Linked DNA regions of Homo sapiens. The protein of the gene in region 3 purifies or fractionates together with the protein of the main gene of each other region. This does not show direct contact. Each region holds a gene or a part of one and is shown on either strand. Other genes may lie near its edges. The genes, in order: THUMPD3, HDLBP, GRK7, CPVL, TIMM21, SLC35E1 and ZYG11B.

Region 1 (3,500 bases), about 130 Mb from region 3:
CTTGAATTATATATCCTACACAAAAAGGTGGTAGAAGACTTGGTTCTCATTCTGTTTCTCAGCATAAATGATTCTTTTTTTTTTTTTGGAGACAGAGCCCTGCTCTGTTGCCCAGGCTGGAGTGCAGTGGTATGATCTCGGCTCACTGTAACCTCTGCCTCCCGGGTTCAAGCGATTCTCCTGCCTCACCCTCCTGAGTAGCTCGGATTTCAGGCACATGCCATCATGCCCAGCTTATTTTTGTATTTTTAAAAGACAGGGTTTCACCATATTGGCCAGGCTGGTCTCAAACTCCTGACTTCAGGTGATCTGCCCGCCTCAGCCTCCCAAACTGCTGGGATTACAGGCATGAGCCACCAAAACACCTGGCCTAAATGATTTCTAATCACTTGTTTGGTTTATACAGTTTGACTGCTTATTATACTAAGAGGACAAGTCATATAACTAACACAGTTGTCTAAAAAAAATTTTTTTGATTCAGAATTCTAAGCAGTTTACTAACTCAACTTATTTCATAGACATGTAATGGCAAAGGTCTGGTTTCTAAAACTACAGCTATTTTTCATGCCTCAGGATGCATGAAACTGTTTTTGTTTCATATAGTCCTTCTATTTTGTATCTTTTGCAAGTGTTTGACTCATGAGACCTTCTATTATAGGATGGGATCCAAGAAGAGAAACTGGAACCTTTATCCAGCTTGCCTACGGGAGATGAGCCGTGTCTGCACACCTACCACAGGCCGAGCTGTACTACTTACTCAAGACACAAAATGCTTTACCAAGGTGCTATACACATTAGCTCAAAATCGCAGCCTGTGGCAACTTTGGGATCTTTTTGAGATTTGGGGATGTTTGTTTGGATAAGATTTGTTTTCTCTTCCCCTGAGGTTTCCTATCTTGGCAGTTAAGAATCCTAGTTGATGTAAAAGTAGATTGTCAACCTAATTGTTATTTTTTTTGTGTGTACACAGGCGTTATCTGGAATGCGACACGTATGGCGAAAGGTGGATACAGTCTGGGTGAACGTTGGTGGTCTTCGTGCTGCAGTTTACGTTCTGATACGTACACCTCAAGCTTTTGTTCATCCTTCAGAACAAGACGGAGAAAGAGGAACTCTTTGGCAATGCAAAGAATGAAGATGACTAATAGTACTTGTACTTCCCACCACTGGAAATGTTAGCATAAAAGAACTTGGAGAGGAAAAAAGTATTAACAAAACTGCAGTCTGCACTCTTTAAACCTGTTTAAGGCTCTTCATCCTGGTTAGCAAAAGGTGTGAATGTAATGTGATGGAATTTAAAAGTTTTATGAGACCAGGCACAGTGGCTCACGACTGTAATTCCAGCAGTTTAGGAAGCCGAAGTGTGCAGATCACCTGAGGTCCGGAGACCAGCCTGGCCAACATGGTGAAACCCTGTCTCTACTAGAAATACAAAAATTAGCCAGGTGTGGTGGCGGGCGCCTGTAATCCCAACTACTCAGGAGGCTGAGGCTAGAGAATCACTTGAACCCAGCAGGCGGAGGTTGCGGTGAGTCGAGATCACGCCATTGCACTCCAGCCTGTGCGACAAGAGCGAAACTCTGTCTCAAAAAGATTTTATAAGAAAGCAGAGCTTTTCCTTGAAGCTCTTTTGAAGTGGTAGCTTAATTAGTATTTTGTTGAAAATACTTTAAAGATGCCTAGTGAAAAGCCTACTAAAGTGCTGTGAGATTGGGGTTTAGAACATTTTATTTTCAGGCTTTATGGCCTATTTTCCATTGTGTCAAGTGCAAAACTACCCTGGCCCAAAGGAAGGGCAGAGAACATAATTACATCTTAGGCCACATTTCATTCTTTGCAGCTTTGCTAATCCAGTTGCTCAAGTTCTTTACCTCAACCTGAAGGAATGAAGCATTATTACATTTTGTGAATGGTGTTCAGCCTATAAGACGAAGTCTCACAAGACCTATAGGAAAGTTTACCATCTGCCTTAAATATTAAAATATCCATCTGTTATTCACATTAATACACAGAATGAAAATAGAGGTCTAGGAATTATCAAAGGTACTGCAAAAATACTGTATAGAACTTATTTGTAAATAGCACATACATTGATAGATGGGGTGTGGGACCAACAAACCAAATTAAAAGAAATTGTTTTTCTTTCAGTACACTAAGGTGTGTGTTTTCAAAACCAAACACAAACCTGTCAAGAGTATTTGTTGGCTAGTTTCTTAAAAGGCCAAGAGAAAAAAAATGATATATCTTTGGAAAACTTTTAATTTGGGAGTTATGTGAGTTGTTACTTTCTCCTGGATCACGATTCACATTTAATTGCTTTTCCAGTTGCAACAAGTCCTTCTTGAGAGTTTTGTGGAAAATGGTGCTTCCCTGGAACAAAGAGTAGTTGAGGTTTTTTTGTGGAACTCATCATAGTATTGTTTATTTTGGAGCCTCTGGCTGCAATCAGTATAGATTTTCAGTATCCTATTAGTATTATAATAGTACTCCTCTTAATACTTTCTGATGTCTCCATTGAGAATAAAAGGACACAATACTTTTGAAAGAAGAGTTCACATTAGCAGCACAGCCAGCAATCCTCATCTGGTTTCTCTGATCTCCTACCCCACACTTCATAATGAATGGGAAATAAGATGTTTATGAAGGTTTTATATCCTAGACTGGCCTTTTTACCACTATCAGAATTCACAGCTGCTTTGTTTATGGGCCGAACACAAAACTTTTCACCTGATGGGAGAAACCATTTAAACCTCAAATTAAGCAACCCACAGAACCAGGAAGTTCAAGGACCATGTCTGTTTTCACCACGATGTCTTTCCCCACCCCCCCACCCCCCACTCCACCCCCCACTAAGGGCAGGGTATTGTATCTGCCAGACTGGGTATTTGTTGAACAAGCGAGTATTTTCGCCTATTAGCTTAGTTTTTAAGGAAATCATTTTTTACTTGATTCATCATAGCTTTAATTCTATTACATACTACAATAAAAATTTGACAAGACTGATACAAATATGTAGTGGGCAATAGTTTGCCGTCTTCTTCCCTAGTATGGTGTTTTTCAATCTGGTGACTAGAATAGGCAGTGGGCTATAAGCAGGATTCATAAGGCCTGGAGCTGAGTTATATGTGACACTGCCACCTATTCATTGTGTGACCTTGGTTTTAACCTTCAAAGTGGGTCTCCTGGACTAAAAGAATGTGAAAAGATGGGGAAATAAATCTGTAATCTGAACATGGAATGACTTAGTTACAGACCAGACATATTGTTACTGGGAATGAAAAAGTCAATATATTTGAGGGGAAAAAAATGTAAATAAATATTGAGAAAGATTTTACAAATCTAATTAGGGGAAGATAGTTATCTCCCAATACTAGAGGGTACCAGAGTGCTTTTAAGGGGAACATTTGGTTACCCTTATTTCTTTAAAAAATGGCAGTTTAGGAAATTCTGCCCTAACTGTAGTCCCAATGTCAGATAGGACTCAGGTCTCCACTGCAAGG
Region 2 (3,500 bases), on a different chromosome or scaffold from region 3:
AAAAATCACCCTGGTGATAACCACTGCTAGAAATAAATAGCGTGATGACTAGTATATAGGAAGCAATGAATACAAAGTTGTTTATTTGTTTTTTTTTTTTTTTTTGAGATGGAGTCTCGCTCTGTCGCCCAGGCTGGAGTGCAGTGGCGTGATCTCGGCTCACTGCAAAGTTCCGCCTCCCGGGTTCACGCCATTCTCCTGCCTCAGCCTCCCGAGTAGCTGGGACTACAGGCATCCGCCACCATGCTCAACTAATTTTTTGTATTTTTAGTAGAGACGGGGTCTCACCGTGTTAGCCAGGATGGTCTCGATCTCCTGACCTCGTGATCCACCCACCTCAGCCTCCCAAAGTGCTGGGATGACAGGTGTGAGTCACCGCGCCCGGCCAAAAAGTTTTAATAGGTGAGGATTTTTATATCATTCATGGATTCTTAAACGTGATCACAAAATCAGATGTTTTATGAGTGACTACCAGCTCCAAGTGTTATCCTTCCAAACTTGAAAACTGAATTTCTGATAAACTGAGTTACCCAGGTTCTGAGGCATCTGTTTAAAAAAAAAAATGAAAAATGAAAAACCCACTCAGAGATTCAGCTTTTTTTTTTTGAGATGGAGTCTTGTTCTTGTTGCCCTGGCTGGAGTGCAATGGCGTGATCTCGGCTCACTGCAACCTCTGCCTCCCAGGTTCAGGCAATTCTCCTGCCTCAGCCTCCCACAGCTGGGATTACAGGCATGAGCCACCACGCCCGGCTAGTTTTGTATTTTTAGTAGAGACGGGGCTTCTCCATGTTGGTCAGGCCAGTCTCGAACTCCTGACCTCAGGTGATCTGCCCGCCTCAGCCTCCCAAAGTGCTGGGACTACAGGCGTGAGCCACTGCGCCTGGCCTCAGCTTTCTTATTTTTAAAAGAAAGGAGCTGAAATCCTACAGGTCAAAAAGTACCCCAAGTCAGGCTGGGAGCAGTGGCTCATGCCTATTATCACAGCACTTCATTGGGAGGCCGAGGCTGGCAGATCATTTGAGGTCAGGAATTCGAGACCAGCCTGGCCAACACGGCAAAACCCTATCTCTACTATTGTGCATGCCTGTAGTCCCAGCTACTCAGGAGGCTGAGGCAGGAGAATTGCTTGAACCCGGGAGGCGGAAGTTGCAGTGAGCGGAGATCATGCTGTCATACTCCAGCCTGGGTGACAGGGAGAGACTCTGTCTCAATAAATTAAAAAAAAAAAAAAAAGTATCCCAAGTCCCCAAGTCATAAGGCTGATAAGAACAGGTCCAGGGAGTAGCTCTGAACCTATTCAAAAAAAAAAAAAAAACGAGGAAAAGCCCAAAATTGAAGTGAGGTCTCCTGACTCCCAGTACAGTCAAAGACACCATCCTTTCATTTTTGTTTCTTTTTTGGGGGGCGGGGGGGACAGGGGGGCAGTGTCATCCTAACCTGGATAAACATCTCAACTCTTTGTTGAGTCAGGGAGAAATAATCAATATCCTGCCTTCTGTACCTAAGACAGCAAGTACTGCTGCAGGTCTCACAAGGTCTACCTCAAGAACTTCTGAGACTACAACAGAGGGAAAAGGCAAGCCCTAGAGTGGATCTGAAAAACGCTTATTTGAAAGAATTCATCGAGACTGCTCACGCCACTTGCTGACTGTTGACTTTGACATCAGCCACTTCTTACCTCTTCCTGCCCCAGGAGAGACCTGCGGTCATAGCACTGGGGTCTCTGGGATACAGCTAAGCCTCCTGAGAGACTGGAATGGGATGGGTAGGGGCTACACGAATAATGGTTTAATTAACATTGACAGTATTAATAGATTAATACTGCAGTGGGCTTGCTGTAGTGATGGTCTACCAAGGAACTTGATTTTTTAGCTTTAAAAATATTCTAAAAGATAACTCAACAAAACAATGTAAAAACTGGCAACCCCCCCATGAGGCTTTACCAAAAAATATATTCTAAACTGTATCTTCAAAACTGTAATTTTAATTATACTTTAATTATAATTTTAATACATGATTTAAATAAAAATAGGATCTTACATGCATTCTTTCACCATCTGCTACACTTATTTTCATTTGAAAAGACACCATGGCCATCTTTCCGAGTACCAAATACAAATTTACCTCATTTGTTAACAACTACATGTTGAGTGGAGTAAACATACCTTAATAAATCCCCTACTGATAGGACCCTTGAACTAATTTTTTTTTTTTTTTGCGATTATAAACAATGCTGGAAAGAACATCCTCTGCTCACTTGGGCCTCTACCCCCACAGGATAAATTGAATTGGAAATGGAATTATATGATGACAGGCAATGCATTGATAGATATTGCCAAGGTAAAACTGCCCACCTCCCAAAGAGTTTAACTAGTTACACTCACAACACCTGATTACAGAATACCTGTCCTCTTCTCCTTTGAGGACAACTAAAATGATCATGTTTATTCTTTTTTCCAGCCTGATGTGCGGGAAATACGATTTTAATGGCAACTCTGATCATCAGTGAGACAGCAATCTTGTTGAGCTTATTGACCTTTTGAATTTCTGTACTGTGAAGATCAAACTAATCACAACCAATCCGTCGTCCACCTTTCTACCAGTGTTTCAGCAACGCTTGTGAGACAAAGCAAAATCCACATCTGGGCAACAGAGCAGTAGGAATGAACAGAAAGAATTATAAATTTAAGTGAAACTCAAGTTGTATGCCAAAAATAACATTCCTAAAGGGCACCCAGGCAAAAGTGATGAGAAAATACTATTAAAAAGGACATCTTTTGCCTCAATTAGTCACACAGTAGACAACGTAAGCTGATGACCTGAGACACCTCAGCCTGCCAAAGTTCCGTTTCATTCACAAACATTAACCTACTCTGCTTTAAGAGAAGGGCTCCCCCAAAAGGTAATTGTGCTTGCAGAAAAGCGTCAAAGTGTATACTGTTTTGCGGGGTATGCAGACCTGGGTAGATGGTAGACTGAGGCTGACTGACAAGGCCAGGTTAGGGAAGCAGTGAAGTAGCTGAAGGCACAAACTGGAGCCAAACCACTAACTCTAGCCTTTGCCTCAGGGTCTACCTCGACCTGTGATAACAACAATACTTGCCTCCTACAGGTGACAGGAAAAGTAAGAAATGTCGTGAATGGTGTGGCCCATGGTCACTTCACCACGATCCACCACCAGTACTGGGTCACTCTGCTCCAGCTCTCCAAAGGCATCAAGATCCGACTGCTAGGAGCCCCGGCTTCTTCCCTGACCTGCCCGTCTCCTACACCCTCTGGTCCTGCTCCACACTGGTCTAATAACTGGTGTTCCACATTCCTCTAACGTGCACAACACAGTCCTGCCCCCGTGCTTTTCACCTCCTGTCCATTCCTCTTATAACGCTCTTCCCCAGATCGCTGCCCATGGCTTGTTTGCTCATCTCAAGTTTGAATCAACTGTCGCTCAATCAGCAAGGCCTCCCCACTATGCCAAACTGCCACTGTGTCCCCCACTCCAC
Region 3 (4,129 bases):
TGGACGACAGAGTGAGACTCCATCTCAAAAAAAAAAAGAAAAAATTAAGTTAAGCGTGTAAATGTTAAATGTCCACTGGTGGGGTAGAGGGAGTTATGTTAAAGAATACTTTAAAATATTTAAACACCCCAACTTTTATAAACAATAGTAACATTAGAGTCATTTGCAACTGAGATGAAAGCCTTATTTCCATATACAGTGTGGGCCTGACCCTTGATATACGCTATGGTAAAGAAAATGGAACACCAGATTCAGCTGGTGACACTTAAACACCTCTTACCTGATAGCACATTGCAAGTGAAGACTTTGATGTATAAAAGAGAATTCGTAAGTAGTACTGAGTACTAAGTCATATTAACTAAAATCCACACAAAGCTCTGGCCTATGTTTCATTTGTCTATTCATTCTATGCACTTATCCCACAAATATACAGATTTGCTTTGATTGGGCAGCTCTTTGCTGGTCTCACCTGGACTCACTCTTATGGTTGCATTCAGCTGGGGGATCGGTGGGTGGCTGAGCTCAGCTGGGAGAGCTGGGGTGGTTGAGCCTCTCTGCAGTGTTTCCTCCTGGGCTTCCTCAAAGCATGATGGCCTCAGAGCAGTTTTCCAAAAGGGTGAAGGCAGAAGCTGCAAGATCTCTTCAGTTCCAGGCTCTGGAGCTGATACACCGTTAACTTCTGCCACATTCTACTGGTCACAAGCCTAGCCCAGGTTGATAGGAGTAGCTGTAAAATACTGTGGCCATGTTTTCCAACCCACCACAGATGGTGGTAAGTGCTGTGAAGAAAAATCAAGCAGGGAAGGAGAAGGGAAGTGCTGAGATACACCAGGGAGAAGGCTTCACTTTTAAATAGGGTGGTCAGGCAAGACTGAATTGAGAAAATGATGAGAGTCAAGACCTCCTGAAGGTAAGGGCGTGAGCCATGTGACTGCCTGAGGGTAGAGCACTTCAGGGAGAAGGAACAGCTGGCTCAAATCCTGGTGAGCTTGAGAAACAGCAAGAAAGTCAGTGTGGGTGGCCCAGAGTGAGGGGCCCGCAGCAGGAAATGTCCTCAGAGAGGAAACAGAGCAGACCAGTGAGGCAGTACTGATCACTGCAAGAACTTAGGTTTTCCTTCTGAGTGAGATGGAAAGCCACTGGAAGTTTTCAACAATCAGATGGACATTTTAACAGGATCACAGACAGAAGGGGCAAGGGTTAAAACAGAAAAACCAGTCTGGAGGCTGCTGCAGTAACCCTGGTGAGAAATCAGGGGAGGGGGAAGATAGTTTGCTTATGGATGGATTGTGGGTGTGACAGAAAAGGAGCAAGGGTGATTCCAAGGTTTTGGGCCTGAGTAACTGGAAGGATGAATTTCTGGTAAACAGGGTGGGAAATCCTCTGGAGGAGCAGGGTGTGGGGAAGATCAAGAGCTCAGTCTTGTACCTGTTAAATTTGACCTGCCAGGGAGACAGCCAAACTGAGGTCTTGAGTAGTCTACAAGATCTATGGGTCTGGAACCCACAGGAGAGGGCTGGGCTGGAGATACTCACTGGGAGTCACCCCAGATATAAATGGCCTTTAGAGCCACAGGACTGGGTGTGATCACTCTGGGGTGAGGGCAGAGAAATCTAAGGACTGAGCCCTAGAGTTTGAGGAGGTGAGGGCAGTGGGGTATTAGGAGAGACAGAATGTGGATCCTGGATATCAAGGGAAGAAAGAGTGTCAAGGAGAAAACAGTGATTACTACGGCAAATGCTGCTGAGAGGTCAGTGGGATAAGGACTGAGAATTGGTCAGTGAATTTAACAACTTGGAGGTCACGCAGATGCTTGACAAGAGCAGTTTCTATGAAGTAGTGGGATGAAAACCTTATGAGAGTCAGTTCAACAGAGAATCAATGAATTGGAGGCAGCTAGTGTAAGCTACTCTTGAGGAGTCTTGCTTAAGGGTGTGACCACTGGAGTGAGTGGCAGTCAAGGCAGGGGTGGAGAGCACATCACTGGAAGAGATGAGATCAGGGGATGGAGAGGCCAGGGTATGAGAAGCATCAGCCATGTGGGTATTGAAATCACCAAGAATTATCAAGAGTAGTGATGGAGAGCTGGGAGCTAGCAACTCAGCGAGTGATTTGTGGGGCTGCAAGAAGACACAGTGACTGCTGGAGTCCAGTCACATGAGACTCAAAGCTGGGTGTTTTTAGGGAAGGAAGGAGAGCAGCAATGAAGAGAAATGAAGACGTCTTGCATGTTGCCAGGTCCAGTTGGATGAGGGGAGCAGAAGTGTTGCAGAAGAAACAGTGTCCTTGGGGGAGAACCAGGTTTTAGGGAAAACAAAATGGAGGGAATTTGTAGGGAAGGGAAGAGGACGGAGGAAATTTTGTTGGTGTAAATATTGGAGGGCACAGAGGACAAGTTTCAGAAGTCAGGAAGGGGTGGGAGTTGCAGGAATAAAAGGGAATGTAAAGAACTACTTGGAATTAGAGTTAGGAGAATGTGAGTTGAGCTGGAAAACTGGGTTTCTTGTGTTGAGGTATCTAACTAGGATAAAGGGCAGGATGAGATTGCTGGACTCAAAGCAGATGGTGGTGGACAGTGTTGGGGGCAGGGAGGGGTGCTGGCCTTGCCACGCACACTGGATCTGGATCCGGGATCCTGCAGCTTCCACTGGGCTACTGCTAAGTTGAAGGAGGTCTTAGGCACAGCACTGGGGCCCTGGTTCCTCGTCTGTGAAGGTGGAGCTGGCAGAGGGTTGGGCTGATCTGAGGCCCCCCAGACTTTGCTGGGTTAGTTAGTGGGTTTGAGAGCTAAGGGTGGAAGCTACAGCAAGAACTTTGAAAGTTGCTCCTTTCACTTTGCATTCACCTTAAGGACCTAACAGCAAGGAATGGTGAAGTTGGGAGGACTCCAGAGCTCCTATGCTTTATTAGGTGCCTTATGCCCTCACAAAACTTCAGTTCTGGGCTGTTGTTTGACCGAAACACAGCACTATGGCTTCAGGGTCATCAACGGCTATTTGAAGCATGAGGTATGGGAAGAATCCAAGCCCATATTTTTCATCCTTAAGAAGATCTGGAGGAGGAGCCAAGATGGCCGAATAGGAACAGCTCCGGTCTACAGCTCCCAGCGTGAGCGACACAGAAGACGGGTGATTTCTGCATTTCCATCTGAGGTACTGGGTTCATCTCACTAGGGAGTGCCAGACAGTGGGCGCAGGCCAGTGGGTGCGCGCACCGGGCGCGAGCCGAAGCAGGGCGAGGCATTGCCTCACCTGGGAAGCGCAAGGGGTCAGGGAGTTCCCTTTCCAAGTCAAAGAAAGGAGTGACGGACGCACCTGGAAAATCGGGTCACTCCCACCCGAATATTGCGCTTTTCAGACCGGCTTAAAGAACGGCACACCACGAGATTATATCCCTCACCTGGCTCGGAGGGTCCTACCCCACGGAATCTCCCCACGGAATCTCGCTGATTGCTAGCACAGCAGTCTGAGATCAAACTGCAAGGCGGCAGCGAGGCTGGGGGAGGGGCGCCCGCCATTGCCCAGGCTTGCTTAGGTAAACAAAGCAGCCGGGAAGCTCCAACTGGGTGGAGCCCACCACAGCTCAAGGAGGCCTGCCTGCCTCCGTAGGCTCCAGCTCTGGGGGCAGGGCACAGACAAACAAAAAGACAGCAGTAACCTCTGCAGACTTAAATGTCCCTGTCTGACAGCTTTGAAGAGAGCAGTGGTTCTCCCAGCAGGCAGCTGGAGATCTGAGAACGGGCAGACTGCCTCCTCAAGTGGGTCCCTGACCCCTGACCCCCGAGCAGCCTAACTGGGAGGCACCCCCCAGCAGGGGCACACTGACACCTCACACGGCAGGGTATTCCAACAGACCTGCAGCTGAGGGTCCTGTCTGTTAGAAGGAAAACTAACAAACAGAAAGGACATCCACACCGAAAACCCATCTGTACATCACCATCATCAAGACCAAAAGTAGATAAAACCACAAAGATGGGGATAAAACAGAACAGAAAAACTGGAAACTCTAAAACGCAGAGCGCCTCTCCTCCTCCAAAGGAACGCAGTTCCTCACCAGCAATGGAACAAAGCTGGATGGAGAATGACTTTGACGAGTTGAGAGAAGAAGGCTTCAGACAATCAAATTACTC
Region 4 (3,500 bases), on a different chromosome or scaffold from region 3:
TTCATTCTCCTCTGCATTTTCATGTTTCCATTACGGATAATTTTCCTTCTGTCTGAAGAACAGTCTTTCGTACTTCTTTTAGTGCAGGTCTGCTGACAAAAACCTTTTCCAATTTTTTGTTTCCTTGAAAATATCTTTACAAGGTCTTCATTTCTATACAAGTTCTAGGTTGGCAGATATTTTATTTAAGAACTTTCAAGATATTATTTCACTGTCTTCCAGCTTTCATTGTTTCTGTTGAATAGTCAGTTTTCTTGCTGCTTTGAAGGTACTGAAAGTACTGTTTCCTTTTCTGTGACAGCTTTTAAGATTTTCTCTGTCTTTGCTTTTAGCAAAATGCTATTCTCTCTGTGTGTGTGTGTGTGTGTGTGTGTGTGTGTGTGCACATACACATACTATAGTGTAATATACTATTACTAATATACTATTATGTGTACTATGATGTGGTTAGTTTGCTTTGTGTTTATTCTATCTAGGATTCATAGAGCTTCTCAAAACTGGCTTGGTAACTTTTGTCAATTTTGGAAATTTTTCAGTCAGTATCTCTGAATGTTACTATTTGTTTCTTTTGCCCCATTTCTTCCTTATCATTTTATCCTAAAATTCCAGTTAAACATAAGTTAAATGTTTCATGGTTTCATGTCGTCTTCTTCTTCTTTTTTTTTTTTTTTGAATTTTCATACCTTTATTCTCCATGCTTCAGTCTGGATATCCTCTACTGACCTAACTTCCAGTTCATATAGTGTTTCTTCTGCATGCCTAATCTATTGCTAAAACATCGATCGAGTTCTTAATTTCAATGAACAATGAATGAGTAACTTTTTAGTTAAAGAACTTCCATTTGATTCTCTTGTATATATTCTAATTATCTTGTGAATTATTTTTCTATACCTAACATCTTGCATATTTTGTTCACAGTTACTTTAAAATGTGTACCTGGTAACTCTAATATCTGGATCATTTGTGGTCTCTGTTATCTTTTTTTCTCCTTAAATTTTAGTCATTGCTCTTGTTCTTTGTCATGCCTATTAAATTTTATTAAATGTTGAAGAAAATGTACAAAAAATATATGAAGAAAAATGTTATTTTTCTTCCAAAAGGATTTAATTTTTTCTAGAAGGCATACAGAGTAGAGGCATATCACCTTGATAAAGTTTGGGATTGAGACGATTGATTCAGTGCTTGATTTCAAGGTTTGTGAGGACTAACCTGTTTCTGGTTTGTTATTACTTCCAAGGCATTGTCTTTCACGGATCTGATGGAAAGCCTGCAGTGCTTACCAGTGCTGTCCCTCCTTGACAGGCTTGCAACTCCAATTTTTTGTTGTTGTTGTTTCTTTTGGGGTTTTCTTTGTTTTTGTTTTTTGGTCTCTCAAGCACCGTAAGACTAATGAGCTTTTCATTCTCTTATCTGCCGCTTTTGACTTGGCGTCTTGGTCAGAGAAGCTTAAAAATTGGTGAATTTCCCAAAGGGAAAAGCAGCACAAAATGTTAGGCTCACTTCCTTGTGATTCCCTTTTCTCTACGATCATGGCCTCTCTCAAGGCTTGGTTGCTCTCTGATACCTTTAAACAGCTTATTTTCTTTTTAATTCAGCTTCTATTGTTTTCTGTGGAATAAGATTGGTTTGGTACATGCTATTGTGTCACAGTCAGAAGTGGAAGTCCTAAATTACAAACAGTATTGTTGCAACTGATTAAGATGGTGTACATAGGAAGCCCCTTGGGGATGTTGTAAAGGAGCACCAAAAGTTTTAACTGCTCTAGAATATGTACCATTATGATGGCTACATGTGGGTCTCCTGAAGCACCTAGAAGCTCCTTTTCTCATTCTATTCAATAACCATTTGCTACACCAGAGGTGTACAGTGGGAGACCTCAAGAATCGTTTCCCTGAGTGCTGTTGAAGCAACTCCCAGCCTTGATCTCTGCTGTTTTTTCATTCTTTCGAAAGTGACTTATTGCATTCTTTGTTAGGAAGTGTCTGCTAACAAGCTTTGGCTTGTTTTTTATTCTCGTTCCCAAGTACCTTTTCAATATATTTTTATTTGAATGCTATTTACGTTATTTCTACTTATAGTTAGTGTCTGAAAGCAAACTAAAAGATAAGATTTAGTAAATGTGGAATGGCATAAAAGTAGTGAAAAGAACTTACATGTAAATCAGAAACCACAACAAGCAGATTCTCTTGAGGGTATGCATCTTTCTATACTGGAAAGCAGAAACAATAAACCAATCCTACATATTCTGCCTGCCAAACTTGCAGCTCCCATGTGGCTCTTTTCTCTTTCCTGGTGAGTAGCACCACCTTTGCAAATCTGCCCATGTCAGAAGCCTGAAATGGGGAGGATTTGTTGGGGATGGGTAGAGAAAGTCTCACTTAACCTTTATATCGGATTAATCACTGATTTTATTGGTTCCATCTTACTACCCTCTTCTCCTTCCCCTTCTCCCCATCCCTCCCATGAGCCCACATCCTCTCACCTGATTTGGTAGTCTCCTAATTTGCCTCCTTGTACCAGTATGACTCCCTTCCAAATTAGCCTTCTCCTTAGACATTAAGTCATTTTTCTACAATGCAAACATAAGCATGTCACTACCCTACTTAAAACCCTCTAGGATATATCCAGAATAGGCAAGTCTATAGAGACAGAAAGCAGATTAATGGTTGCCAGGGGCTGATGGGGAGAGGGGGAGTGGGAAGTGATTACTGATGTATATGGGTTTCCTTTGGGGTGGTGAAAATATTCTGCAACAAGATAGTGTGAATATACTAAATGCTACCGAATCATACGCTTTAAAATGGTTAAAGTGGTAATTTTATGTTAAGTGTATTTTACCACAGTTGCTTTTAAAGCCCGATAGGATAAGGTCCACTCATCCCAGCATGTCACTTGGGGCATCACATGGTCCCACTAGCGTTTGCCTGTTCATCTGTCTCTTCTGTTTCCCTCTATTCCTGCATGAATGGGACGACATACAGACTGCTGCATGCGCCCGCAGCTTCACGGCCCCTGCATTTCCACACAGAATTTCCTTTGTCTGCGGTGATCCCTCTGCTGCACGTGCCCACAGTTTCATGCCCCTGCATTTCCATGCCTCCTGCATTTCCACGCCTCCTGCATTTCCACACACAGTTTCCTCTGTCTGCGGTGATCCCTCCACCCCCACCCCACCCACCCACCACTCTCCGTCCAGTGATCTCCTTCAAGACCCCCAAGAAGCTTCCCCTGACACATCTACATCAACAAGCCCACTGTGAACTTCCCTCTCTTTTCTGTCATCTAAACAGGCACAACTGGGAAACCTTTACTGGCAGGTCTTTGTTTCTAGTTCCAGGGAGAATTATATTGTTTTCTAAAAAATAAAGTGGAATGAAGCTTTAAAGTGTTTGTATAACCCTGTTGAAATTCATGACACATTTGTGACCCCCTGGAACATCTGGAACACATGAAGTTAGAGGCTGCAGCTCTAGTGTGGAGGCACCCAAAATAGACAGTTC
Region 5 (2,509 bases), on a different chromosome or scaffold from region 3:
AACACATGAGTGGTACTATATAAAATAAATAGTAAGTGTAACCCTGAGTAGAAATCTATGAATTAGGAATTGGGGAACTGTCTCTGGATGAGAATAAGAGAAACAGAAGTAATATTGTAATGGCTTACCAAATGGAAATAAATGGATAAAGTATTACTAGCATTGATCAACAATAGTTATGAAGGGAGCTTGCAGGGTAGTTAGGCTGGAAATCTCACGGGGCTAAAAGCAGAACTTCTGATAAACTCTTGCCTTGCATATAATTTCTTCATTAAGGAGGAAGAGCAAACAGTGACAGGAGAGTCTGCTCTAGAGTTAGTTGTGAAAAGAGTTCACTGATCAGGTGTGGAGGAATGACAGAGGCCTTGGAGGAAAATGACCAGAGCATTTGCAAATTCACAAATATGACGGAAGGGGATACCAGGCAGAGTCAGATAAGTGCCCTAGAATTCAGAGAAAAAGTGGGAGTAAGCCCATGGACAGAGACACCACAATCAAAGTGGATTAAAGAGGGTCTTAAAACACAGAAATTTTAACATTTAGTAGGGTACATCAGAGGGAATGAAAACAGAGATCTAGAGAGTTACACATCACATTTTCCTGTGGCTATACAGAAGAATCTCTTATTGGTACAGAGTTTTTCCTTTTGAAAAAGTAATTTAGTTTTATTTCTAATTATAAAAGCTCAGATCTGTTTTTTGTTTTTTTTTTTTGAGACGAAGTCACACTCCGTCACTCATGCTGGAGTGCAGTGACATGATCTTGGCTCACTGCAACCTCTGCCTCCTGGGTTCAAGCGCTTCTCCTGTCTCCTGAGTAGATGAGATTACAGGAGTGTGTCAACGTGCCTGGTTAATTTTTTTTTTTTTGAATTTTTAGTAGATAGGGTTTCACCATGTTGGCCAGGCTGGTCTTGAACTCCTGACCTCCAGTGATTGACCTGCCTCAGCCTCCCAAAGTGCTGGGATTATAGGCATGAGCCACCTCGCCTGGCCAAAAGCTCAGATCTTAAAGGGGCATGAGCATATTGTAAAATGGCAGGTGCATAAAAATGAATACAGAAAAAGCAAACAGTCTTAAGTCAAATGACAGGGCCATGGAGGGTGGCTAAATCCCCACCTGAGCTCAGATGCCGGGCTTCTTCAGCAAGCTACAGTTTGAGCAGGTTGTTTGAAGAGCAGGGCTGCTTTTTTGAGTTTAGGATAGCAAGTGGAACTTCTCAGCCTGTTAAATGTTGACATTTCAGTGAATCCTGAAACTGAACATTCTATAGCAAAGGAAAAAACGATTAGGAGAGAAAGCCTAAGTTAAGGCCTCATTCAGTCAAAGTGTGTTACGTCAGGGAGACGAGTGTCTGTTATATTTTCTATACTCCTTAAATGTTGGAAATTTTTATAATTAAAAACATCTAAAACAAGCAGTCAAACCAAGAAACTAACTAAATTAAGCAGGGAGATAAAGTAAAAAGGGGAGATAGATTGCCTGGAGGTCTCTCTATCCTGAATATCCCAAAATTTCAAGAACACATCAGAAATTCCTCTACAGACAGTTCTCGGGGAGAAGGAACAAACACATCAGAGGGGATACCTCACACTGAAGCCACCGCAGATAAACATGGTTCTAGACCCCTCCCAATGCACATAGCACTTACATAGATATGGAATCAGGATCTTGTAAGTGAAGGTCACTTTTTTCCAAATCCCCAGCAAATATTTCAAATAAAATAGAATTTCCTTTTTTTTTTTTTTTTTCTTTAAGGGGCCTCACACACGTATTTGAATGTCTCTCATTCACTCCCATGTTCTTTTGGCAGTCAGAAGTATCAGTGCAAGTAAGTTCTAAAGGGGATGAGGGCACTTCATGGCTGCCTTCTATGGTCCAGGCTTGTACCTCTCATCACACTGCCATCCTAACAACCCACACAACAGGGACACTTGACCACGCACCTGCTAGAAAAGGTGGGGTGGGTGCCCAGGTCTACCCAACTTGGGAGTGTGTACTTTTCCCGCTATGTACTAGGCCCTTAATTCATGAAGCGCGAAATATGAGACAGATTCCTAAAACTCACACAATTTTGAAGAATGTATTTACCATCTGGTTCCCTATGGCCCTCAACCATTTTCACATGCTTATCTCAAGTCAGATTCCAAAGTATGCGGAGGGCAGCTGCTAATGACATATTTGTTAGTTTTAATTTTATTCTGCAGACATTATGCAGTTCTATAATATAAAATGAATACAATACTAAAATCTATTTCCTTTATTTACATGGTGTAACATTTCCAATAACAAACATTTCTAATCATGAAAGATGGTGTTAAAGCAGAAATATTGTCATGATTGAGTCAATGGGAGAACATAAAATATGCTGTATTTCATAATTTTTCCGTAAGAAAATGTCTAGTTTGTTTAAATGCAACAAATACTGTATTAGATTCACTTTATAAGCCATACACTCCTTCTTGTCTTTCTTTTGAACACATTCTGGAAGGCAGCTGTGAAGAACGGA
Region 6 (3,039 bases), on a different chromosome or scaffold from region 3:
GTTACCCAGGCTGGAGTGCACAATCTCGGCTCACCACAACTTCTGCCTCCCAGGTTCAAGCAATTCGCCTGCCTCAGCAGCCTGAGGAGCTGGGACTACAGGCACGCGACACCATGCCCGGCTAATTTCTGTATTTTTAGTAGAGATGGGGTTTCACTATGTTGGCCAGGCTGGTCTCGAACTCCTGACCTCGTGATCCGCCCATCTTGGCCTCCCAAAGTGCTGGGATTACAGGTGTGAGCCACTGTGCCTGGCCGGGGAACTTTGTTTTTAAACGTTTACAAACAAAAAGATTTTCGATGCATAGGCCAGTCCTAATGCATCCCATAATGGGGACCAAGGCAAAAACACACACACACAACTACAAAATATTCCCTAGAAAAATGCAAGATCCTCCGAAAATCAAGATCTCTCTACCAAACAACATACCAAGTCATCACAGAAGAGGTGAAGATGCCTCTCAAAAGACATGTGCCACAGAAATAGAGCTTGAAATACTGAACACGATTTCTCGAAGATCCTTCTCACCACCCCAAGAGAAGCGCCCTGCTCTGGTGAGGGAAGAGGAGGCAAAGGAGAAGAGAGAAGTTTCCCTTCCATCTGGATCTGGGTGGATGCCAACCCTGACGTGCAGGGCAGAGCACCAGGCTGCAGGAACTGGATGCTAATTGCAATCGCTTTTTGCTTTGGAACATTTGCCAGGAACTTGTGAACTGCTAAGGGGATGACCAGGAAACTGGATCCATCTCTGTGGCTGGGGATGTTTTGAATGATTCTCGCGGGCTCCCTGTCTGCTTGGTGACCCTGTTGGTCCTATGCGTATCTGCGCCAGGGAATTAAACTAGCCAGTCTGACGTTCTCAAGCACCGCCCTGGACACCCCCACTGCCAGTTCATGGTCTACAGCCACAGTGACCCCAGCTTTTCACACAGGTCCTGAATGTTATCTGGAATGCAGACACAAGTGCTCTGAGCTACACTGCTTGGGGAATAATTCCACATGGAAAGGTACAACGTGGCCAAGATCTCCGCAGGGACACGGCCCTCAGATGACAGACTCCAGGAAGAAAGAGCATGAGACACTGGTCTCTGTTTAGGTTTGCCCAGAGCTCACGGCCGTCTGCACTGCAGGCAACGCATCCTCCTGCGGCTCACGGGGGGCCAGGAACCCCAGGGCTTCTGATGGAGAGTTATGCACCGTCCCCTCGGCTGGGTTGTACATTCACTGATTGTCAGAAGTTTCTGATACTGCTGTGGGGGCCGGGGAAGGAGTCACCAACAGTCTGGTCCTGTCCTTTGGACTCTACACATCATAGCGGTTCAAACTGTACGAGTTTGGGTAGCTCTGCCGGCTGTATTGGAAGTGGTCTGTTAAGATGTTGTTGCGGCCGTACTGATAGTCCCCGTGCTGGGGGAAGAGGAGGCCGTTGTGGGGCTTCTCCAGTGGGCTCCGGTGACGCTCCTTGCTGCTCAGGTCTGCTGTGGTGACGGGGAGGAGGTGCTTCCTGGCTTGCTGGTTTGCATCGTACTTGGTCTGTGCCAGAAAGAGAGCAATGAGACAGGACATGCCCGGGGCATAAGAGCTCGTAATTCAAAGTCAATCAACTGGCTGGCTGCGGTGGCTCACACCTGTAATCCCAGCACTTTGGGAGGTCGAGGCGGGAGGATCACCTGAGCTCAGGAGTTTGAGACCAGCCTGGGCAACATGGCAAAACCCCGTCTCTACTAAAAATACAAAAAATTAACCGGGTGTGGTGGCGCATGCTGTAGTTCCAGCTACTCAGGCGTTCTGAGGCACAAGAATCACTTGAACCCAGGAGGCGGAGGTTGCAGTGAGCTGGGACCATACCACTGCACTCCAGCCTGGGAGACAGAGCAAGACGCTGTCTCAGAAAAAAAAAAAAAAAAAAAAAAAGTCAGTTAACCTCCGGGGCCGGCATAAGTCATAGGGCTTGAGCAAGGAAAGCAGACTTGAATGGACCAGACCACAGTGCATGGACAGACTCAGAAGACAAGTCCTTGGCCAGGCGCAGTGGCTTATGCCTGTAGTTCAAGTGCTTTGGGAGGCCTAGGCGGGAGGATCACTTGAGGCTAGGAGTTGGAGACCAGACTGGACAAAATAGAGAGACCCCATATCTACATGTGTTAAGAAACAAATGAAGAGGCCAGGTGTGGTGGCTCATGCCTGTAATCCCTACACTTTGGGAGGCCAAGGCAGGTGGATCAACTGAGGTCAGGAGTTGGAGGCTGGCCTGGCCAAGATGGTGAAACCCCATCTCTACTAAAAATACAAAAATTAGCCAGGTGTGGTAGGCGCCTGTAGTCCCAGCTACTCGGGAGGCTGAGGCAGGAGAATCGCTTGACCCCGGGAGGCGGAGGTTGCAGTAAGCTGGGATGGAGCGCCACTGCAATCCAGCCTGGGTGACAGAGCCAGACTCCATCTCGAAAAAAAAAAAAAAAAAAAAGAAAAGGAAAAGAAGGCAAGCCCTCCCTGTTGGCCATCCCATGTCCTTACACCGCACTAAACAGAGCCTTTGAGAGGAGGGAGGGAAAACCCCAGCTGAGACACAGCCGGAATGATTTGAGGACCTGAGGTTGCCTATGCAGGAAAAAGGAAGCCAGAGTGGGATGGGGCTACGCCAAGATCATAAACCAGTCAGTGGCAAAGCTCTGACATACAACCCCAGCCTTGAGCGCCCGGGAGGCCCTTCCTTTTCTGACTTCCTGGGTGTTGGGGGGCCGGCTTCCTTCCCTGCCCAGCCTCTCAGACTCTCACCTTGTTATAGAGGAAGACCCCCAGGATGGCGGTCATCATGCCCAGGACGTTGGTGCTGGTGACTGGGTTGCGCAGCATGATCAGGGACACCGTGATGACCATGATTCTTTTGGTGGCATTGGCGACCGAGTAGCTCAGGGGGCTAACGAGGTTGAGGATGCTGAAGGCGATAACATTCTGGGCAAAGTTACAGAAGCCGCTGACAGCCAGGAGCAGGAGCGTCCAGGGCCACTGGTAGACGTAGGTCTGCAGAGACCGGAAGGT
Region 7 (3,500 bases), on a different chromosome or scaffold from region 3:
TATCCCCCACCACGATGTTAGTAGATACCTTCTGGGGAGCCTGAACTTCAACACTCATCAAGCAGCGATGAAGTTCTCTACCTGCTTCCCTGCTGGGGTGCTGTCATAGGAAGTCTAGTGGAAAGTCAGGACTTTCACAACTGCCCAACAGTAATGAGGCCACCTCCTCCCAACATGGTGTCAGTAGAAGCCAACTGGGAAGCAGAAATGACATACCCATACCCCTCTCATTTAGGGAAGTATCAATAGAATCCTAGTGGGGAGTCAGAATTCCAACCTCTGCATAGCCCTGCACCTTGGGTGTCAAGAGAAGCCAAGTGGGGAACCAGAAAGAACATTAACCCTAATCTGGCTGGGCATAGTGGCTCACACCTGTAATCCCAGCACTTTGGGAGGCCGAGGCGGATGGATCACAAGGTCAGGAGATCGAGACCATCTTGGCCAACATGGTGAAACCCCGTCTCTACTAAAACACAAAAAATTAGCCAGGCCTGATGGTGCCTGCCTGTAATCTCAGCTACTTGGGAGGCTGAAGCAGGGGAATCGCTTGATCCCAGGCGACGGAGGTTGCAGTGAGTTGAGATCGCACCATTGCACTCCGGCTTGGGCAACAAGAGCGAAACTCCACCTCAAATATAACATAACATAAAATAAAATAACAACATAACATAAAATAAAATAACAAAATAAAATAACATAAAATAACAACATAAAATAAAATAACAAAATAAAATAACATAAAATAACAAAATAAAATAAAATAACATAACGTAACAAAATAACATAACATAAAATAAAATAACAAAACAACATAAAATAACAAAATAAAATAAAATAACAACATAAAACATAACAAAATAATATAACATAAAATAACATAAAAAATAAAAATAACATAAAATAAAATAACATAAAATAAATAAAATAAAATAATTTTTTTTTTTTTGAGACGGAGTCTCGCTTTTCACCCAGGCTGGAGTGCAGTGGCGCGATCTGGGCTCACTGCAAGCTCTACCTCCCGGGTTCACACCATTCTCCCGCCTCAGCCTCTGGAGTAGCTGGGACTACAGGCACACGCTGCCATGCCCAGCTAATTTTTTGTATTTTTAGTAGAGACGGGGTTTCACCGTGTTAGCCAGGATGGTCTTGATCTCCTGACCTCGTGATCCGCCCGCCTCGGCCTCCCAAAGTGCTGGGATTACAGGCGTGAGCCACTGTGCCTGGCCTATAAAAATTTTTACAAAGAACATTAACCCCAATCTGGCAGTAACAAGGCAGTGCTCCTACCTTCCACTGCTGGAGTGACGTCAGTGACTCAAACTAAAACAGAAAAGTCTCATATCACCTAAAATGTCCTGGTTTCAATAAAAAATTACTCTGAATCATACTAAGAACCAGTAAGACTTCAAACTCAAAAAGAGATAATCAATATATGCCAACAGTAAGGTAACAGAAATGTTAAAATTATTTGACAACGATTTTAAAGGAGCCATAAAAAAATGCAATTAAATTTTCAAAAGTAAACAAATATGCTTGAAAAAAAATGAGTAACAGACCAGGCGCGGTGGCACTTTGGGAGGCCAAGGCAGGCAGATCATGAGGTCAGGAGTTCGCGACCAGCCTGACCAACATGACGAAACCCCATCTCTACTAAAAATACAAAAATTAGCTGGGCATGGTGGCACACGCCTGTAGTCCCAGCTACCCAGGAGGTTGAGACAGAAGAATCACTTGAACCTGGGAGACAGGGGTTGCAGTGAGCCAAGATCGCACCACTGCACTCCAGCCTGGGCGACACAGCAAGATTCTCCATCTCAAAAAAAAAAAAAAAATTTAAAAAAAATTTAATAAGGAAAAAAAGAAAAAAATGAAAACAGACTCAGCAAGGCAAGAGAAGATATAAAGAAGAATCAAATAAAAATTTTAGAAGTGAAAAATATAATAATGCTTGAGGTCAACAGTAAAATAGAGAACAGAGAAAAAAGACTGGTGAACTAGAAGATAAAACAACATAAATTACCTAATTTAAATAACAAGAACAGAATGGGAAAAAAACCAAAACCAAAAACCTAAAGCTATATTTGTGTCACTGGAATATCTCAAGGACAGGAGAAAGACAGTGTGGCTGAAAAAGTACTTAAAGAAATAATGAGCAGGCACAGTGGCTCATGCTTATAATCCCAGTACTTTGGGAGGATGAGACAAGAGGATTACCCGAGGCCAGGAGTTTGAGACCAGCCTGGGCAACATTGCAAGACTCCATCCCAACAACAAAAAATTTTAATTAGTCGGGCATGGTGGTACATACCTGTAGTCCTAGCTAGCTAGTCGGGAGGCTGAGGTCGAAGGGTCGCTTGAGCCCAGGAGTTTGAGATTATAGTAAGCTATGATTGCACTCTAGCTTGGGTGACAGAGTAAGACCCTGACTGGGAAAAAACAAAAAACAAAAAACAAAAAACTGAGTGTGGTGGCTCATTCCTGTAATTGGGAGGCTGAGGTGGGAGGACTGCTTTGAGCCCAGGGGTTCAAGACCAGCCTGCACAACATAGAAAGACATCATCTCCATTACAAATTTTTAAAAATTAGTCAGATGTTGGTGGCATGCACCTGTGATCTCAGCTACTTAGGAGGCTGAGGCAGGAGGACTGCTTGAGTCCAGGAGTTCAAGGCTGCAGTGAGCTATGATCATGCCACTACACTCCAGCCTGGGAAACAGAATCAGACCTTGTCTCAAAAAATAATTTTTTTTAATTAAAAAAAAAGATAGGCTGGATGTGGTGGCTCACGCCTATAATCCTAGCACTTTGGGAGGCCAAGGCAGGAGGACTCCTTGAGGCCAGGGGTTCAAGACCAACCTGGCCAACATAGTGCGACTCCATCTCTATTAAAAAAAAAAAAAAGATCACTCAGAAAAATTGGAAGCAGTGGTTTACATGGAGTTAAGGGAATTTTATCTGATGGCTTCAATTTTCTTCCTAAGATAAATGGTAGAAAGTCTGAGAAGAGCAAAGAACATCTGAAACTACTGTTAGGAACACTAGTTTACTGGGGAAATACTCCAGAACTCCTGGGCAGTGCCGAGGAGCCCGCCTTTATGTTACTGACTTCCCTCCTTGTCATTCAGGTCTCAGTCTAGTATCACCACTTTAGAAGCTTTCTCTGATCATCCAAGTTAAAACATCTCCCTTCCTTTATTATTCTTCTTAAGAGAACAGTGTTCTTTTTCCCTCAGAGAACCTGGCACAAGCTGTAATTCTATATGTTTACTTCCTAATTGTGTCTCCCACTGGACTATACGCTCCATGAAAGCAAGATTCATGTTGCATTCATTGTCTTATTTAAATATTCACAGTAATCCCTGTGAGGGAGTTATAATTATCAACACTTTACAGATGAGGAATCTTAGACTTGCAGAGTAACTTATCCAGGGTCAAAGAGCAAATTAATGTTGGAACCAGGACTCAGACCTAGGACCGATTTATAGAACTCATGCTCTTTTC

Evidence for each region.
Region 1: the proteins of GRK7 (region 3) and THUMPD3 purify together in Homo sapiens (affinity purification with mass spectrometry; one large-scale study listed by BioGRID and IntAct). This does not show direct contact.
Region 2: the proteins of GRK7 (region 3) and HDLBP purify together in Homo sapiens (affinity purification with mass spectrometry; one large-scale study listed by BioGRID and IntAct). This does not show direct contact.
Region 4: the proteins of GRK7 (region 3) and CPVL purify together in Homo sapiens (affinity purification with mass spectrometry; one large-scale study listed by BioGRID and IntAct). This does not show direct contact.
Region 5: the proteins of GRK7 (region 3) and TIMM21 purify together in Homo sapiens (affinity purification with mass spectrometry; one large-scale study listed by BioGRID and IntAct). This does not show direct contact.
Region 6: the proteins of GRK7 (region 3) and SLC35E1 purify together in Homo sapiens (affinity purification with mass spectrometry; one large-scale study listed by BioGRID and IntAct). This does not show direct contact.
Region 7: the proteins of GRK7 (region 3) and ZYG11B purify together in Homo sapiens (affinity purification with mass spectrometry; one large-scale study listed by BioGRID and IntAct). This does not show direct contact.

The regions. Positions count from the first base shown.
Region 1 is NC_000003.12:9,383,554-9,387,053, forward strand, and holds the end of THUMPD3 (tRNA (guanine(6)-N(2))-methyltransferase THUMP3), read left to right. Parts: intron 1-658; coding exon 659-782; intron 783-970; coding exon 971-1,135; coding exon of another isoform or gene 1,136-1,179; 3' UTR 1,180-3,238; downstream 3,239-3,500. UniProt on the Homo sapiens protein: Catalytic subunit of the THUMPD3-TRM112 methyltransferase complex, that specifically mediates the S-adenosyl-L-methionine-dependent N(2)-methylation of guanosine nucleotide at position 6 (m2G6) in tRNAs.
Region 2 is NC_000002.12:241,305,673-241,309,172, forward strand, and holds part of HDLBP (vigilin), read right to left. Parts: intron 1-3,500. UniProt on the Homo sapiens protein: Appears to play a role in cell sterol metabolism. It may function to protect cells from over-accumulation of cholesterol.
Region 3 is NC_000003.12:141,762,079-141,766,207, reverse strand, and holds the start of GRK7 (rhodopsin kinase GRK7), read right to left. Parts: upstream 2,801-4,129; 5' UTR 470-2,800; intron 1-469. UniProt on the Homo sapiens protein: Retina-specific kinase involved in the shutoff of the photoresponse and adaptation to changing light conditions via cone opsin phosphorylation, including rhodopsin (RHO).
Region 4 is NC_000007.14:29,000,038-29,003,537, reverse strand, and holds part of CPVL (probable serine carboxypeptidase CPVL isoform b precursor), read left to right. Parts: intron 1-2,153; exon of another isoform or gene 2,154-2,209; intron 2,210-2,482; exon of another isoform or gene 2,483-2,569; intron 2,570-3,500. UniProt on the Homo sapiens protein: May be involved in the digestion of phagocytosed particles in the lysosome, participation in an inflammatory protease cascade, and trimming of peptides for antigen presentation.
Region 5 is NC_000018.10:74,158,523-74,161,031, reverse strand, and holds the end of TIMM21 (mitochondrial import inner membrane translocase subunit Tim21 precursor), read right to left. Parts: 3' UTR 501-2,509; downstream 1-500. UniProt on the Homo sapiens protein: Participates in the translocation of transit peptide-containing proteins across the mitochondrial inner membrane.
Region 6 is NC_000019.10:16,552,377-16,555,415, forward strand, and holds part of SLC35E1 (solute carrier family 35 member E1), read right to left. Parts: intron 3,022-3,039; coding exon 2,776-3,021; intron 1,534-2,775; coding exon 1,303-1,533; 3' UTR 1-1,302. UniProt on the Homo sapiens protein: Putative transporter.
Region 7 is NC_000001.11:52,764,453-52,767,952, reverse strand, and holds part of ZYG11B (protein zyg-11 homolog B), read right to left. Parts: intron 1-3,500. UniProt on the Homo sapiens protein: Serves as substrate adapter subunit in the E3 ubiquitin ligase complex ZYG11B-CUL2-Elongin BC. Acts to target substrates bearing N-terminal degrons for proteasomal degradation with the first four residues of substrates being the key recognition elements.